2 linked regions of the Homo sapiens genome follow. The protein of the gene in region 1 interacts with the protein of each later gene in a biochemical or structural test. Each region holds a gene or a part of one and is shown in the gene's direction. Other genes may lie near its edges.

Region 1 (7,000 bases):
TTATTAGCCAAATTGGTAATGTTGAAATAGCAGCCATGGTATAAAACCAGAGGATTACTAATGTTCAGATAACCATTTCTCTAAGCATTTAAGGATAGTGTTATCTACACTTGAAAGTTAAAGTATGGAGGAGCAGCTTGATCTAATGGAAGCTCTGGCTTTAAGAGTCCAGAGAGCAAGATTCCAGTCTCTGCTGTTTCATTAACTTTAGTTAACTGTACAAATCCTGTGTCTGAGTACAATATATGCACTTTTTTTGTACCATGGTTTCTTTATGCTAATGTCTGTCATGGTAAATTACATTCTTCAGTTCTCATGTTAGATGTTTGTCTTCGGATCACAGGTACCCTCTTACCAATTATACTTTTGGTACAAAAGAGCCCCTCTACGAGAAGGACAGCTCTGTTGCAGCCAGATTTCAGCGCATGAGGGAAGAATTTGATAAAATTGGAATGAGGAGGACTGTAGAAGGGGTTCTGATTGTACATGAGCACCGGCTACCCCATGTGTTACTGCTGCAGCTGGGAACAACTTTCTTCAAACTGTAAGTAGTGTTGGAAATTAACAGCAAGACAGTTTTTAGTAGGATTGCTGTTTATGCAGCTCTGGAATACAATTTTAGCCCTCGGTCATTCATTTCAACAAACACTGCTGTTAATGATGTCTTTAGAAAGAGAAAATCATGAGTAATTTTTCTCCATTGCAGTGCTCATTTATTTTCCTAACTAGTAATCTGTATGTTTCTGTATGTTGTTGATGTTAATGATTGAGCTTGGTAGAAACCCCATGGAATAGTTGAGTCCAAGATCAATGTCTAGATGTCATTGTAGCATTACCAAGAACAATTGATATTTCTTTCTTGGTATGATTAGCATTTCCTGTTCTTAAGATGACTTAGGTTTTTGTGGATAACAGTTTAGTGTTTTATCATTTAAGCTCCTACATCTCTCAAACATTTGATCCGTAACTATTTGACTAGATTATACCAAAAAGAAAAGTCTCCAATACTTAGATGACGTTCTTGAAAAAGTTTCCCATTCTTTAGGCCTAAAGAATGTGATCCATTCCTCTCTGAGCATTTCTAGACTCCATTATCATCAGATAGCTCCCAGAGAGGAGATTGGGATGGACTGGTGGTTAGCAATTTTGTTTATGTTTGTGCTATGTTATATATTCTGTTTGTTTAAAACTAGGGTTTATGTGATGGGTACATATGGACATAAAGTTGGAAAAAATAAACACTGTATACTCCAAAGGTGGGGAGGGTGAGGGGGAGGCGAGGGTTGAAATACTTCCTATTGGATGTTATGTTCACTGTTTCAGTGATGGGTTCACTAGAAGCCTAAACCTTAGCATTACACAATATACCTATGTAACAAACTTGTACATGTACCCGTTGAATCTACAATAAAATAAAAATAAATATATACGAAGAGGAAAAAAACCTAGGGTTTGTATACTGTTAGTCTGGGGAATTGACATGAATTCAAGCATATTCTCCCCCTTCACTTTGATACTTGTTTTGATTGCCTTATTATGCTGAAATATGTTCTTAGTGACTTGGTAGAAATAACAATTATTGTGTTATTTGTTATCTCCAAATTGTATTAAGTTGAAAGCTGAAATTCTTAACTTTTATACAGACCTGGTGGTGAACTTAACCCAGGAGAAGATGAAGTTGAAGGACTAAAACGCTTAATGACAGAGGTATTTTTCTGTTTAACCACTTTGAATACCATCAACTTACTAGTTATTTGGCTTTTAATGTCTTGTAAAAAGGATGCTTATTTTGGAATATTTAGTTTTCAATAAATACAACTTAAACTCCAGAAGGTTAGTACAATGTTGATTTTTTTTTACAAGTTGAAGTTACACTTATTTCAATTTTTAAAATGTTAAACTGTGTCACAGCAATGGTAAATTAAAACTGACATTTAAGTATTACTGTGCTAGACACTGTTCTGAGTGCTTTACATGCGCTAATTCCTTTAATCACCACCACAACTGTAGGAAGTAGATATTATTAAGTTTAAATTACTTCTTGTTATATAGCTAGTGTGTTGTAGAGCCAGAGGTTTGAATGCAGGTAGTTTTGTTCAAGAGTAGGCCTCTATAGAATTTTGAAAAGAGAAAGATGCCTGTGTTTTCACTTTTTTCACATATTTTTTAGACTTTGCCCAAATTATTCTACTTTTTAAAAATCATTGTAATGCCTGCATGTAAAGACTTGGGGCCAAATGCATAGATACTGAGGATTTTGAGATTGTAAATTGTTTTCAATGTTAGTTTTCTTCTTTAACATTCAATTGCCGCCTGCCCCTGTTACAAAGCTCATATATTCTCTGTGCAAAAAGCTTGGCAAACACAGAAAAGCAAAGGAGAAACAAAACTAAAGTCACCCGTAATTCTCCCACTTTTGACCTATTGGTTTGTCTTTCTAGTATTTCTAAAAATGTATTATAACTCTTAAACATTTTCCTGTGCTTGGACTTCCATTTATATAATGTATGGTACAAAGATATAAGTCCATTAAGGTTGAGGGAGTGCAAAATGAGAGAATCACAAAAGCAAAATTTTTGGAAACTGGAAAACAGATGGGCAAATTATAACTAACTTAGCAGAAACCTTAGTCCAGCAGACAGGCAGGCAGAATCTAGCATTGCAGAGTACCAGAATGACTGAGGAACTGAAGGTGCTAGGTACTTATGAAAGTGGGGGCATGCATGGGCTGAAAACTGGACTGGTTCAAAGTATATATGGAGTATATTTATACAGGTTGTGTATTCCTTATCTGAGAGCTTGGGACCAGAAGTGTTTAGCTGCTATTTGATAGCACAACAGGGTGACTATAGTCAATAATCACTTAATTGTAAATTTAAAAATAACTAAAAGAGTATAATTGGATTGTTTGTAGCACAAAGGATAAATGCTTGAGGGGGTGGATATCCCATTCTCCATGATGTGAATATTACGCATTGCATGCCTGTATCAAAACATCTTGTGTACTCAAAAAAATTAAAAATTAAAAAAGTGGTTAGGATTTGGGATTTTTTTCAGGTTTTGGAATATTTGCATTATACTTACCAGTTAAGCATCCCATATACAAAACTTGAAATGCTCCAATGAGCATTTCCTTTTTTTTTTTCTTGAGACGAAGTCTCTCTCTTGTCACCCAGGCTGGAGTGCAATGGTGCAATCTTGTCTCACTGTCACCTCCGCCTCCCGGGTTTAAGCGATTCTCCGGCCTCAGCCTCCCGAGTAGATGGGATTAAAGGTGCCTGCCTCCACGCCCAGCTAATTTTTGTATTTTTAGTAGAGACAGGGTTTCACCATGTTGACCAGGCTGGTCTAGAACTCCTAACCTCAGGTGATCTGCCTGTCTTGGCCTTCCAAAGTGCTGGGATTACAGGCATGAGCCACCACGCCCGGCCTGAGCATGTCCTGTGAGCATCATGTCAGTGCTCAAAAAGTTTGAGATTTTGGAGTTTCAGATTGGGATGTTCAACCTGTGTATCTAGATTGTCTTCCCCACTCTGTAATTAGGCAAAGACTGGCTGATGATTCTCTGTAGTAATTGAATCAGAGAACAACTAGCAATGAAAAAAGTTTAGGGGATGGGGAGAATAAGAGTTCCTATTCTGAATAGTCAGACTCTTGGACCTCTATTAGGCTGACAGAATGTTAACAATTAGGCTTGTTTTTTTTTTTTTTTGTTTTTGTTTTTTTTTTTTTGAGGCGGAGTTTCACTCTTGTCGCCCAGGCTGGAGTGCAGTGGCGTGATCTCCAATGTGAGCAATGGTTGCTCACTGCAACCTCTGCCTCCTGGGTTCAAGCGATTCTCCTGCCTCAGCCTCCAGAGTAGCTGGGATTACAGGTGCCCACTACCATGCCCAGCTAATTTTTATATTTTTAGTAGAGATGGGGTTTCACCGTGTCGGCCAGGTTGGTCTCGAACTCCTGACCTCAGGTGATCTGCCTGCTTTGGCCTCCCAAAGTGTTGGGATTACAGGTGTGAGCCACTGTCAGTCTAGGCTTACTTATTTTTTTTAGAGACAGGGTCTCACTCTGTTCCTCAGGCTGGAGGATGGTGGTGTGATCATAGCTCACTGTAACCACAAACTCCTGGGCTCAAGCAATCTTCCTGCCTCAGCTTCCTGAGTAGCTAGGACTGCAGGTATGTGCCCATGATGCCTGGCTAATTAAAGAAAAGTTTTTTATAGAGATGAGATCGTGCTATGTTGCCCAGGCTGGTCTCAAACTCCTGGCCTGAAGCAGTCCTCCCAAAGCATTGGGATTACATGCATGAGCCACCAGGCCCAGCCAACAATTAGATTTATATATCCCAGGCTGAGGGTTGGAATTCTTGTTTCTGGAAAAAGTGACCAGTCCAAGAAAAACTTCAGATACTGCCATTTGGGAGCTGTCTTCGTCTGTTTAATGTTGCTATAACAGAATACCTGAGGCTGGGTAATTTATAAAGAAAAAGATTTATTTGGCTCACCAGTTCTGGTGGCAAGATTGGGCAGCTGGTGAGGGCTTCATGGTGCTTCCACTCATGGCAGAAAGCAAAATGGGAGTGGGCATGTGCAAAGAGACATGGCAAGGGAGGAAGCAAGAGTGAATCCAGGAAGCCACACTCTTTAACAACCCTCTCTCCAGGGAACTAATCCATTCCTGATGGAGGAAGGGTATTAAACTATTCATGAAGGATCCACCTGCATGACTCAAACACCTTCCACTAGGCCCTGCCTGCCAACACTGTCACATTGGGGATCAAATTTCAACATGAGTTTGGGGGCAGGGAGACAAACCATATCCAAACCAAAGCAAGAATTTTCTATAGAAATAATGTAGTCCTGGGCCAGGCGCGGTGGCTCACACCTGTAATCCCAGCACTTGGGGAGGCCAAGGCGGGTGGATCATGAGGTCTGGAGTTTGAGACCAGCCTGACCAGCATGGTGAAACCCCGTCTCTACAAACATAAACAAATTAGCTGGGCGTGGTGGCGGGTGCCTGTAATCCCAGCTACTCGGGAGGCTGAGGCAGGAGAATCAGTTGAACCCAGGAGGTGGAGGTTGCAGTGAGCCAAGATCATGCCACTGCACGCCAGCCTGGGCAACAGAGCAAGACTTCGTCTCAAAAAAAAAAAAGAAAAAAAAATATTGTAGTCCTATCACTCATGCACACAGAGGTGACAATTAAGCATCTTGTTGCTTCTCCCTTGTGAGTACACAACCAACTATCACCAGGCTTTTGGAGAAAACTTCTTAACAAGAAAAAGATCAAAAGAAGCAAAAGGACCTCAACAGAAGCAGAAAATTCAACCATTGACAAAACTATGATTAATATTCTTGGTGAGATGAGAGGAGATTTTGCACCTGTGAAACAGTGCTATTAAAAAGACATTTTAGCCAAGAAAAACCTCATGGATATTAAAAAAATGTTGGAAGAAATGAAAAATTCAGTAAAGAGTTAAGAGGTTCATTCTACCAGAAAATAGAATGAAAAGATAAAAAGATAGAATGTAGGTAAGAATAGATAAAATTAGTGGGTCATTCTAGAAGGACCAATATAAACTATAGATAAATAGAACAGAGTAAAAGGAAGAATTAGCAAAGCATAATTAGAGAAAATTTCTCAAACCTCAAAGGGCATGAGTTTTGAGATTGAGAAGACCTACTGGCCTTGCCTCTATAGTGAATGTTTAAAGATCCACGCAAAGGCATATCATCATGACGTTTTAGATCCTACAAACGAAAATAAAAACAAAAAGATGTAAAAGCTTCCAAAGTGGGAGGTGGAGGATTGGTAAGCAGAGAGGTTAAATGCAAAACATCAAAATCAGAAATTGCATTAAACTACCCAGAAATAATTCTGGAAGCTAAGGGATGGTGGAGTGTTGTCTTTGTAATTTTGAGAGAATATAATCTCTGTCCTAGAATTTTCTAATCAAACTATAAATCAAGTGTGTGGGTAAAAGTTACTTCTAGACATGCAGAGTTTCAAAAAGTTACATCTCTTGTACCTTTTCTCAGGAAGCTACTAGAGGGTGTTCACCCCCAAAATGGAATAAAATAAGGACTCCAGCTGTGAAGCAGGGTTGAGACTATCAAGTACAGATTACAGCAGGATGATAGAAAAACGTGTCTTAGGCTGGGTGTGGTGGCTCATGCCTGCAATTTCAGCACTTTGGGAGGCTGAGATGGGCAGATCACGTGAGCCTAGGAGTTTGAGACCACCCTTGGCAACATGGTGAAAAATTAGCCTGGTGCTGTGGCTTGCATCTGTAGTCCCAGCTACTCGGGAGGCTGGGGGCAGGGGAGGCTGAGGTGAGAGAAGCGCTTGAACCCATGAGGTGGAGGTTGCAGTGAGTGGAGATCGCGCCATTGCGCTCCAGCCTGGGTGACAGATCTTGTCTTGAAAAAAGGAAAAACATGTCTTAGAAAAGATGAAATTAATAGAATAACTGACAATTGATATTTGAATTGGGAAGAAATTTAAGTTATCATGGAGAATGTGGGAAATGAATTTAGTGATAGCAAAGGAAATGAAAGTTATTAACTAAAGAATAGGACAGTTGAACAAGTAAGGAGATACGGTTTGCTAATCATTGCTCTGTTGTGACTGATCTACCGGATCATACTAACTTAAATACTGAATATTGACTTAACCAAATATTGATAATGGGAAGATGGTGGAAGAAAAAGTGTAACTAGGATGTGTGATTTTAATATCTAAATTCTCATTCATAGTAGAGGGTTATAGGCTTTTAAAAAATGTTTTTAAAATGAAAATCAAGAGGCCAGGCGCAGTGGCTCACGCCAGTAATCCCAGCACTTTGGGAGGCCGAGGCAGGTGGATCACAAGGTCAAAAGATCGAGACCATCCTGGCCAACATGGTGAAACCCTGTCTCTACTAAAAATACAAAAAAGCTGGGTGTGGTGGCGGGCACCTGTGGTCCCAGCTACTCGGGAGGCTGAGGCAGGGGAGTCGCTTGGA
Region 2 (8,405 bases), on another chromosome or scaffold:
TAGTTATTGTTGCTTCAAAGTTTTTTACTATCTTAACATAGGAGGCTTAGTCTGATCATTTCAACTTGTAAGTTACCTTGGACTTGACAACTGTTGATTAATTTGATGATCAGGTCATATAGACTTAGTTTCTGTTGGGGTTTTAGCTGCCATGCTACTGCAACCATGCCACTCTGCAACCAGAGATCACCCTCAGGGCAGAGCTACGAGGTGGGTGAAATGGGAGATTTACTCCCTTGCAGTTGTTTCTCTAAATTTTGGCTGTCCTCCGTATTGCTTTCTGTTTATTCATTAAGACTATACTATACAGAGTCTGAATGTAGTTGTGGTTTTTTTTTTCCTTTGAGTTTTCTAACTGTAATTAACAGGACCAATGGCTTGTAGTGCTTGTAGTGGGCTGCAGTGTATGATGCCCTAGTGCAATTGGTACTTTACTTTTTTTTTTTTTTTTTTTTTTTGAGACTGGGTCTCACTTTATTGCTCAGGCTGGAGTGCAGTGGTGCGATCACAACTTACTGCAGCCTTGACCTCCCGGGCTCAGGTGATCCTCCCACCTCAGCCCTGAGTAGCTGGGTCTACAAGCTCGTGCAATCACATCCAGCTAATTTTTTTAATTAATATTTTTTGTAGAGATGGCCTTTCACCATGTTGCCCAGGCTGGTCTCAAACTCCTGAGCTCAAGTGATCCTCCTGCTTTGGCCTCCCAAAGTGTTAGAATTACAGGCCTGAGCCACCGTGCTGGGCCTTCCCTTTACTTTTTATTTTAGATATAATTAGATCTTAAAGTCTTCATAGAAGGTTGCATTTCAGTATGTAGTTTTGGTTTGTTAAGAAATATTAAGAACTATAGTAGCTAGGATGCTATGTCTGTTCTTTAGCTTTAGAACTGCTTAATAGCATTATTGTTGCCATTAAACTCATTCTTTCTGATAGTTTAAAATTTAGTACTCTCAAATTGAGTGTGCCAAACCAAATTCCTAAGCATTTTAATCTCTGATCACAAATTGCTTTGCATTTCTTGGTTTTCTCAGTTAATATGTTGATCTGTTATTTTTGCTTGAGTCATTCAGTTATCTTGTAAAAACCATGTTTGGTTCTCTGTAAATAACTATTGGTAATAAGAACATGTCGTTCTTCAGTACCCTCATCTCCCTACTTGTAACAGGCTGAAAGAAGTCCTAGCTGTAAAATATGTTCTGTAACATAAGAGAATGATATTTTGCATCAATTCTTAGGTGTGTCGTTTGGACTGGTGATGAGCGGGTCTTCTTTTATAATCCCACCACTCGTCTTTCTATGTGGGACCGACCTGATGATCTGATTGGCAGGGCAGATGTTGACAAAATTATTCAGGAGCCCCCTCATAAAAAAGGAATGGAGGAATTGAAGAAACTAAGTAAGTTTTAAATTAGGAATTTATCCACTGATTTTAACATTCTTTTCATATTTTGATAGAAAATGTGGAAGGCATTTAGAAACCCTTTATTTTTCAAAGAATATAAGAAGCATTCGAAAAAAATAGACTGCTATCCTAGTTTGAATGAAATAATAGAGATTAAAAATATGGAGAGAATTTGGATAAGATTGTGCTTTGTAAAATATGTGTGTCTTTAATTTATTGTCCTACTCAAGATTTTCAGTTAGTCCAAGATATGGTTGGTAGTGTTGCTGCTTGCTTAGTGCTTATCAATACTACTAAAATGCTCCTCGGTGGGCCTTTTAGCACCTTTTGTGACTAGTAATATATTTCTTGAAATAATACATTACAAATTTTTTAAAAATACAAAATCTCAATCTTTTGAATTAGATGGTAAGCTCCTTATATTCCTGAGACTAGACACCTAAACCTTACTAAGAGATTATCTTTTAATCTATCTCATATTCAGAGGGCATACTAATATATTGAGTACAGATATTTGTACGTAATTTTTGTTGTGTATTTCTTATTGGTAATTTGCCCTTGTGTTGATATGATTGTGTTTTTATAGAACTGTGGCCCGCAAGTGGTATAGAAGCAAGATAAATGAATTATTTAATGCTTCTAATGAAATAAATCCTAGTGTGTATCATTTATAGTCATTGAGACATTTTCATGCATTATATATATGCTGAATTATAAGTAATTTCTGAGTCAGTGCCGCTTTGCCTATCTAGTGCTGAAGGTACTAGGCTCACCTTCAGCAATACTTGTTTTATAGGTATGATAATAATACTTTATAACTATGGTATTGAATGATGTTGAAACAATATGTGATTTTCTTTTGTTTTTCGTGAATTTGTTTTTAAATATTTGATTCATTCATTTGATAAATACATTAACGTGCATTGTTAAAAGGTACTGTAAATCCTGAATCAAGAAAGCTTTATTTTATATATTTGTAAATTTAAGGTTTGGGCAAGAAACATTTCAAAATGAATTAAATTTAATGTAAAGGGAGGATAAATAGAGGAAGTGTAGAATTATGCTTTGTTTAATGTTTTATAAAGGGATGAATATTAAGAGGTGAATATATTATGTAAACAGTAATTTTTAAAAAGAAAAGTTTGTGAAATATATGCAAATGACTTTGTAACAATATTTGAAATGTTTTTGCCAGGGCACCCAACTCCGACAATGCTGTCGATCCAAAAGTGGCAATTCTCTATGAGTGCAAGTGAGTGAACTAACCATAAATTGCAGCTTCTTTTTAATACTATTAAAGCAAGTGTTCTGGTAGTGATTAGCAGAAGGATTCATTCCTAAATATTTTAATTAAATTTTGTCTTATAGTTAAAGAGGAACAAGAATTAATGGAAGAAATTAATGAAGATGAGCCTGTTAAAGCAAAAAAACGGAAGTAAGTAATACATACGATTTGATTGAGGTAGATTATATCTTTTAAAAGTCGATTTGGTAATAATTTGTGATTGGAAGGGACAGGTAATGTGAATGTTGTTAGGAGGCATGATTGCTCTCTTAGGCCTGATAATAAATAGCTTTGTTTTTCATTGTAGAAAATGTGTCCCTTCTTTTGCTAGATTTGTAGAAGATTTGGGTATTCATATATGTATTATGACTCCAAATGATAGTTTTGGAATTAATTCTTTTTGGAAATTTATTAGGTCTCAATTTTATGAAAAGTTAGTTTCCTCCCTCATTTAGACCCCAATGGATACCATTCCAGAGATCTCATAAAAACAGACACAGACTTCTCCCTCTTTATATGGTTATCTTACGACTTACCTAGTCCTTGAGTCTGGTCATTAACTCCTTGGTGAGGAGAGAACCCATAAGCTTAGGAAGTGCTCTGCGAGAAAGAGACTGCTAAGAAGTAGAGGCATTAGCTTGGCCAGTGCTCTAGAGTTGGGTAAAATGTAAATGTTATGGCGGGGGGAAGGATGGGGTAGAGGGTATGCATGTATGGGGAATGGGACCATTATTTAGCAGCAAAAAGGAAAGTTTGAAGACATTAACAGGAACTGGTTAATTGTAGTCCTTATCTGAAAAGGACAGATTGAATGCAGCCAAATTATGGCAAAGAAATCAGTAGGACAACCCCTATAAAGGGTAGTTCTTTTAAAAAAAATTTCTTTATTGGCAACAACATAAAAGATATGAAAGAATCACTCATAATTTATCAGCGTAACATAGCTATTCTCATTTTTGCAATTGACTTTTTAGTTCTTGACCAAATGTAATTTTTATTAGTTGTGATTAACTGATTTTGTGCTTTTTTTTTAAAAAAAAAAAACCTAGAATAAGACATTTGTTTTGTTAATTATTATAAATGACTGTATTCATTCTGTTTATGTACCATAATTTTGGATGTTCCTACGATGTTAAACTTTTAGGTTGTTTTTAATTGTTTGTTCTTATAGACAACTCTGTAAGGTTTTTAACTGCTTTTATCAGGAGAATGTCAAAGAAGTCCTTTATGTGGATTGCCCGAGCTTCTCTATTTAGGTACAAAGCTAAAAGCCTGTTTTTCCTGGCTTAGTTTTTCTTTTATTTCCTTTATTGAGATAGATAGTGATAGTTTGTATTGTGACATTTTCATTTAGTATAGTTCTATAAAGGTTATTTGTTTTTATTAGTTACTTCTTGGATGTCTTTTAACTCTAACTATTTAAATAGTTTTAAAATTATTATTATAAGAGGGTATATTGTTTGGCAAATTGCTTTTACCTGTTTGTTTTGTGCATATCTTAGGTCACAGACTATCTCGCTAAGTTCCTGCAGGTCACGGACTATGTCTTCTATTTCTTTTGATTCATTGCCTAAGTTGCTAAGTACCTCTCACTTGCATTTGTGGGTTAGCCTTAGTTCCATTTAAATCTCTGGGGCTACCTACAGTTTCCTGTATAGCATGCTTTTGAATTTCCACATGTTCTGTTTTCCTAATTCCCTTAAGTTTGTATAGGGAATAAGAGCCAATTTTTAAAATATACTTAGCAGATCATATTTAAGAAGGAAGATCTGCTAAAATACACCCAGATATTATTGAATTACATACTTTTTTGGATTATTTACGTGAATGGGCCTTTTTCATAGTGCATATATTTGAGAGGTGCCGTGATTCCATGTTTACAATTTCACTTGAGTACCACACAGAAACAGGGTTGCCCTTACACCTGAGGTGCATTTTTGGAGGAACAAGAAGTAGTTTAGTCATTGATGAACAGTTCTAATTCCACCTAACTACTCCTGGGCCCATGTTGCTCTCTGGGACCTGTCCTTCAACTTAAATCTCAACTTATCACCCAGAAAGTGAGTAATAAAAAGTCAGGTAGGTAAGGTATATATCTTACATATTCACTTGGCCAAGATTGCAGATATTTTAGTTTTATTTTTAAAATGAATGTTTGAGATTACTAAAACATTATACCACTTAATACCAATTTTTATTAGATTTTACAAAATATTTTATGTGTTTATAATGTAAAACATTTTGGAAAATACTGTTTTTTCTATATTTCAAGAACTAAAAAAATTATATTTTGTGCTGTTTGATTCTGACACATAGAGGTTTACTGCAGTGTTAAACTTTTTTTTTTTTAAGTAAGGTTGCTCCCTTTTTATGTTATTAACCAGTGTCAGGGAGAGACAGCCCATTAAAGGTGTATTTTTTTCCTAATAATGTAGCCATTGTAAATCATTAGAAGCCCATTTTAATTTTGTTATTATGAAAGTTATTTATCCCTTAGAGTTCATTTGAAACCCTCAATATAATTTGTTTTTGCCAAAAATATGCTGCTCAGTAGTGAGTCTTGAAAATTCCTTTGATTTTAAGATTTCTAATAAGATCTGAGAATTAATATTTTGTCAGTTGATGTCTTATATTTTATTTTTTATAGGAGAGACGATAATAAAGACATTGACTCAGAGAAAGAAGCTGCCATGGAAGCTGAAATTAAAGCTGCCCGAGAAAGGGCCATTGTCCCTCTGGAGGCTCGAATGAAGCAGTTCAAGGACATGCTGCTAGAGAGAGGGGTCAGAAAACAATCTTTGGGGGAGATATTTCTGTTTTGTATAAGTAATATAAATATGTCTTGCTAAAAGGTCAAATCTAAGGTTAGTGCTCATGTTATGGGGGGGGATAAGGGGATTTTTAAAATTACTGTACATTTTTTGCAACAGCCTTTTTCTTGGCTAATCTTATCATATTTAACTAAATGCCATTTTACTGTCCTTTTAAGTACAAATAACACTTAACATTTATTGGGTCATTAAATTGTGGTGAGTAATATAAGACGAGTATTAACATTACAGAATGGCGGACTGCTTGGGATAGGTAAGGTATATATGATTATTCTTCCTTTAATATCTTGAGAATGGCTTTTGTTAAAGGAGAACTGATACTTTGTGATATTATTATTTGCAATTTAATTGAGAAGGGATTTCAACTATTTGGTTATATTCACAGATTCATTTGAATAAGTAAAATTGTTCAATTTTAAATCACAACATTGTTCACAAGATTGGAGCAAGCATGAGAAATCAAAATATAAATCTTCAAGGCTTTTTCTGATGTACTGATTTTTAAAATGTCACACAGTAGTAGTTATTTTAATGAGTAATTAAGTGTCTGTTATTTCTATATAATATAGGAATGTTCAGAGCCAATTAGTGTGGAAATTTGCTATTGCTAGCCTCCCACTGCTTGTCATTTATTAGTGATGGAAACTTCAGTATGGTTTTATGTCTCCTTTATAAACAGATATCCTGTAGATTTCAAGCAAAATTATGACCTTTATATTTTTAGAGGAGACTTAATTATGAGGCAATACGTTTTTATTTTAAAGGTGTCTGCTTTTTCAACGTGGGAGAAGGAGTTGCACAAGATAGTTTTTGATCCCCGGTACTTACTTCTCAATCCTAAAGAGAGAAAACAGGTAAAAGGAAAATGGCATTAACTAAGAATGTATATCTCTTGCCAACATAGTTTTTAAATTATAAGGAATAAAGTACCATCCCTTTTTTTTCTGATACAGCATTTCAAAAATATAGTCTTGCATCTTAGAACATATTATGTGTCTGTGTGTGGACATTTCTACTTCAAAATTCTTGGATATTTTTGCCCTTATGAGCATGGCTGTTGTCTTGTAAACATTTTGTCCTTATGCCTCATATACCTAGGTTATGTGTAGTATGGTTTTAAAATTGATTTCAAATGCATTTACTAATTTGCTTGTTTGGGCCAATGATGCAAATTTAGAGTAGAAAAATAGCAAAATACAGATGAGTAAAAAGGATAAAAAAGCTACTGTAATCCCAACTAATAGATATGACTACCGTTGAACACTGGTTTATTATTGAATACTGAACAGCCTTCTTGACCATTATGTGTCAGTATGTACATATATATGTGTGTGTGTGTCCTGTAGATAGTACTTGAACATAGGTTTATGTCTTATACACAACTGCATATACAAAGTTCACATCTAAGTAGCATCTGTTAAAATATCTGTTTCCATCATAAACTCAGAAAAACAGTGGATACTTAAGGGTCCCTGTTGAATTAGTGTTGCTTTTTATTCCCATGATGATTCAGTGACACATATCATTTCGTGATTGCCTCTTCTAAAGCATTGCACACTTCCAACTTACTTAATTTCTGAATTACCTGAACTATCCTGACACTGATCTCCATAAAATGGTGAGTATGTGGAACCACTTGCTATAGTGCTGTTAAGCTGTAAGATTTCATTTGGTAACAGTAGTGCCCATCTTTGATATTTTTAATGTAACAATTGAAATAATTCTTCACATGGTGTGTACCATTATGCATGTAGGTCTAATCATGGACTTGAATGAAGGGAGAAAATTTACAATGTGCCAGATATGTATTTTAGTACTTGGAATAGAAAGACATAACTTCCTTAATGTATTTGCATCTTCATTTTAAGCTTTGTATCTTTTTTAAAAAACAAACTCTGTGTGAGTTTTTTATTCTCATTTCAGTTTATGGCTCTATCAAAATTTATAAATTAGCCTTGATTCCTTACTTTTCCCACTTCCCCTTTACAGTCTTATCAGCAAATCTATAATCTACCTTCAAAAAATTTTCAAAATCTCACCTTTTATTAATCATTTCCCCCATTAACACCCTAATCCAAGCCACCATAAACAACCCTTATCATCTGTGTAGCCTATTGTTGATCTCCTTCATTCCATCTGTTCTTGTTCCTCTTTAGTCAAGTTCTTTTTCCACACAGCAGCCAGGCTAATTTTAAAGTTTAAGTGATACTAAATTAAGTCACTGTTCCCTTGCTTAAAACTGTTTAGTGCTTTCCATTTCATTGAGAATAAAATTGAAGCTCTTTTCATGGTCTCTAATATTCTACATAGACTTACCCCTGTATACCTCTTGATGGTCTTTTTTAATGTCTGTTGATTACAGCCACACTGGCCCTGATATTACTTGAACAAGCCAGTCATTCTGGTGTTTGCTATTCCTTCTGCCTGGACTGTTTTTCCTCCAGGTGTTAGTACAGCCAGCTTCATTTCATTAAGGTACTTGTCCCAGTGCCTTCTAATCAATCTAAGTATTGTCTCTTTGCCTTTTCTAATTTCTTTATGGTGCTCATGGCTCTAATTGTATAAAATTATGTTTTTATTATTTGTCTCCTCCTCCTGCAAAATATAAATTGTATGAGGCTAGAAACTTTGTCTTCATTGCTTTATTTGTAGTGCCTGGAACATTGCCTAATCTAAATATCTCTGAAGGCTTTAAAACTTTTATGACGTATTCCTCCTGGTACTGAGTGTTATAGTGAAATTAGAAGTAACATATTGAGAACTATAGTTCTTTCCCAATTTTTGAAGCATTCTATAAGCTGATGGTGGTATCTCCTTAATAGAATTACGTTTGAAAAGAGAAAATATTATTCTAGTGTTCTGTTTTCAATAAAATCTCTAGTTAAAA

Evidence for each region. The genes of interacting proteins can lie anywhere in the genome.
Region 2: the proteins of NUDT21 (region 1) and TCERG1 form a complex in vitro, tested with the Homo sapiens proteins (one study listed by BioGRID).

Annotation. Positions count from the first base shown.
Region 1 is NC_000016.10:56,441,333-56,448,332, reverse strand, and holds part of NUDT21 (cleavage and polyadenylation specificity factor subunit 5), read left to right. Parts: intron 1-343; coding exon 344-544; intron 545-1,643; coding exon 1,644-1,707; intron 1,708-7,000. UniProt on the Homo sapiens protein: Component of the cleavage factor Im (CFIm) complex that functions as an activator of the pre-mRNA 3'-end cleavage and polyadenylation processing required for the maturation of pre-mRNA into functional mRNAs.
Region 2 is NC_000005.10:146,477,258-146,485,662, forward strand, and holds part of TCERG1 (transcription elongation regulator 1), read left to right. Parts: intron 1-1,235; coding exon 1,236-1,396; intron 1,397-2,597; coding exon 2,598-2,654; intron 2,655-2,770; coding exon 2,771-2,837; exon of another isoform or gene 2,838-3,892; coding exon 3,893-3,943; exon of another isoform or gene 3,944-4,189; coding exon of another isoform or gene 4,190-4,313; exon of another isoform or gene 4,314-5,334; coding exon 5,335-5,470; exon of another isoform or gene 5,471-6,282; coding exon 6,283-6,372; intron 6,373-7,880; exon of another isoform or gene 7,881-7,993; intron 7,994-8,405. UniProt on the Homo sapiens protein: Transcription factor that binds RNA polymerase II and inhibits the elongation of transcripts from target promoters. Regulates transcription elongation in a TATA box-dependent manner.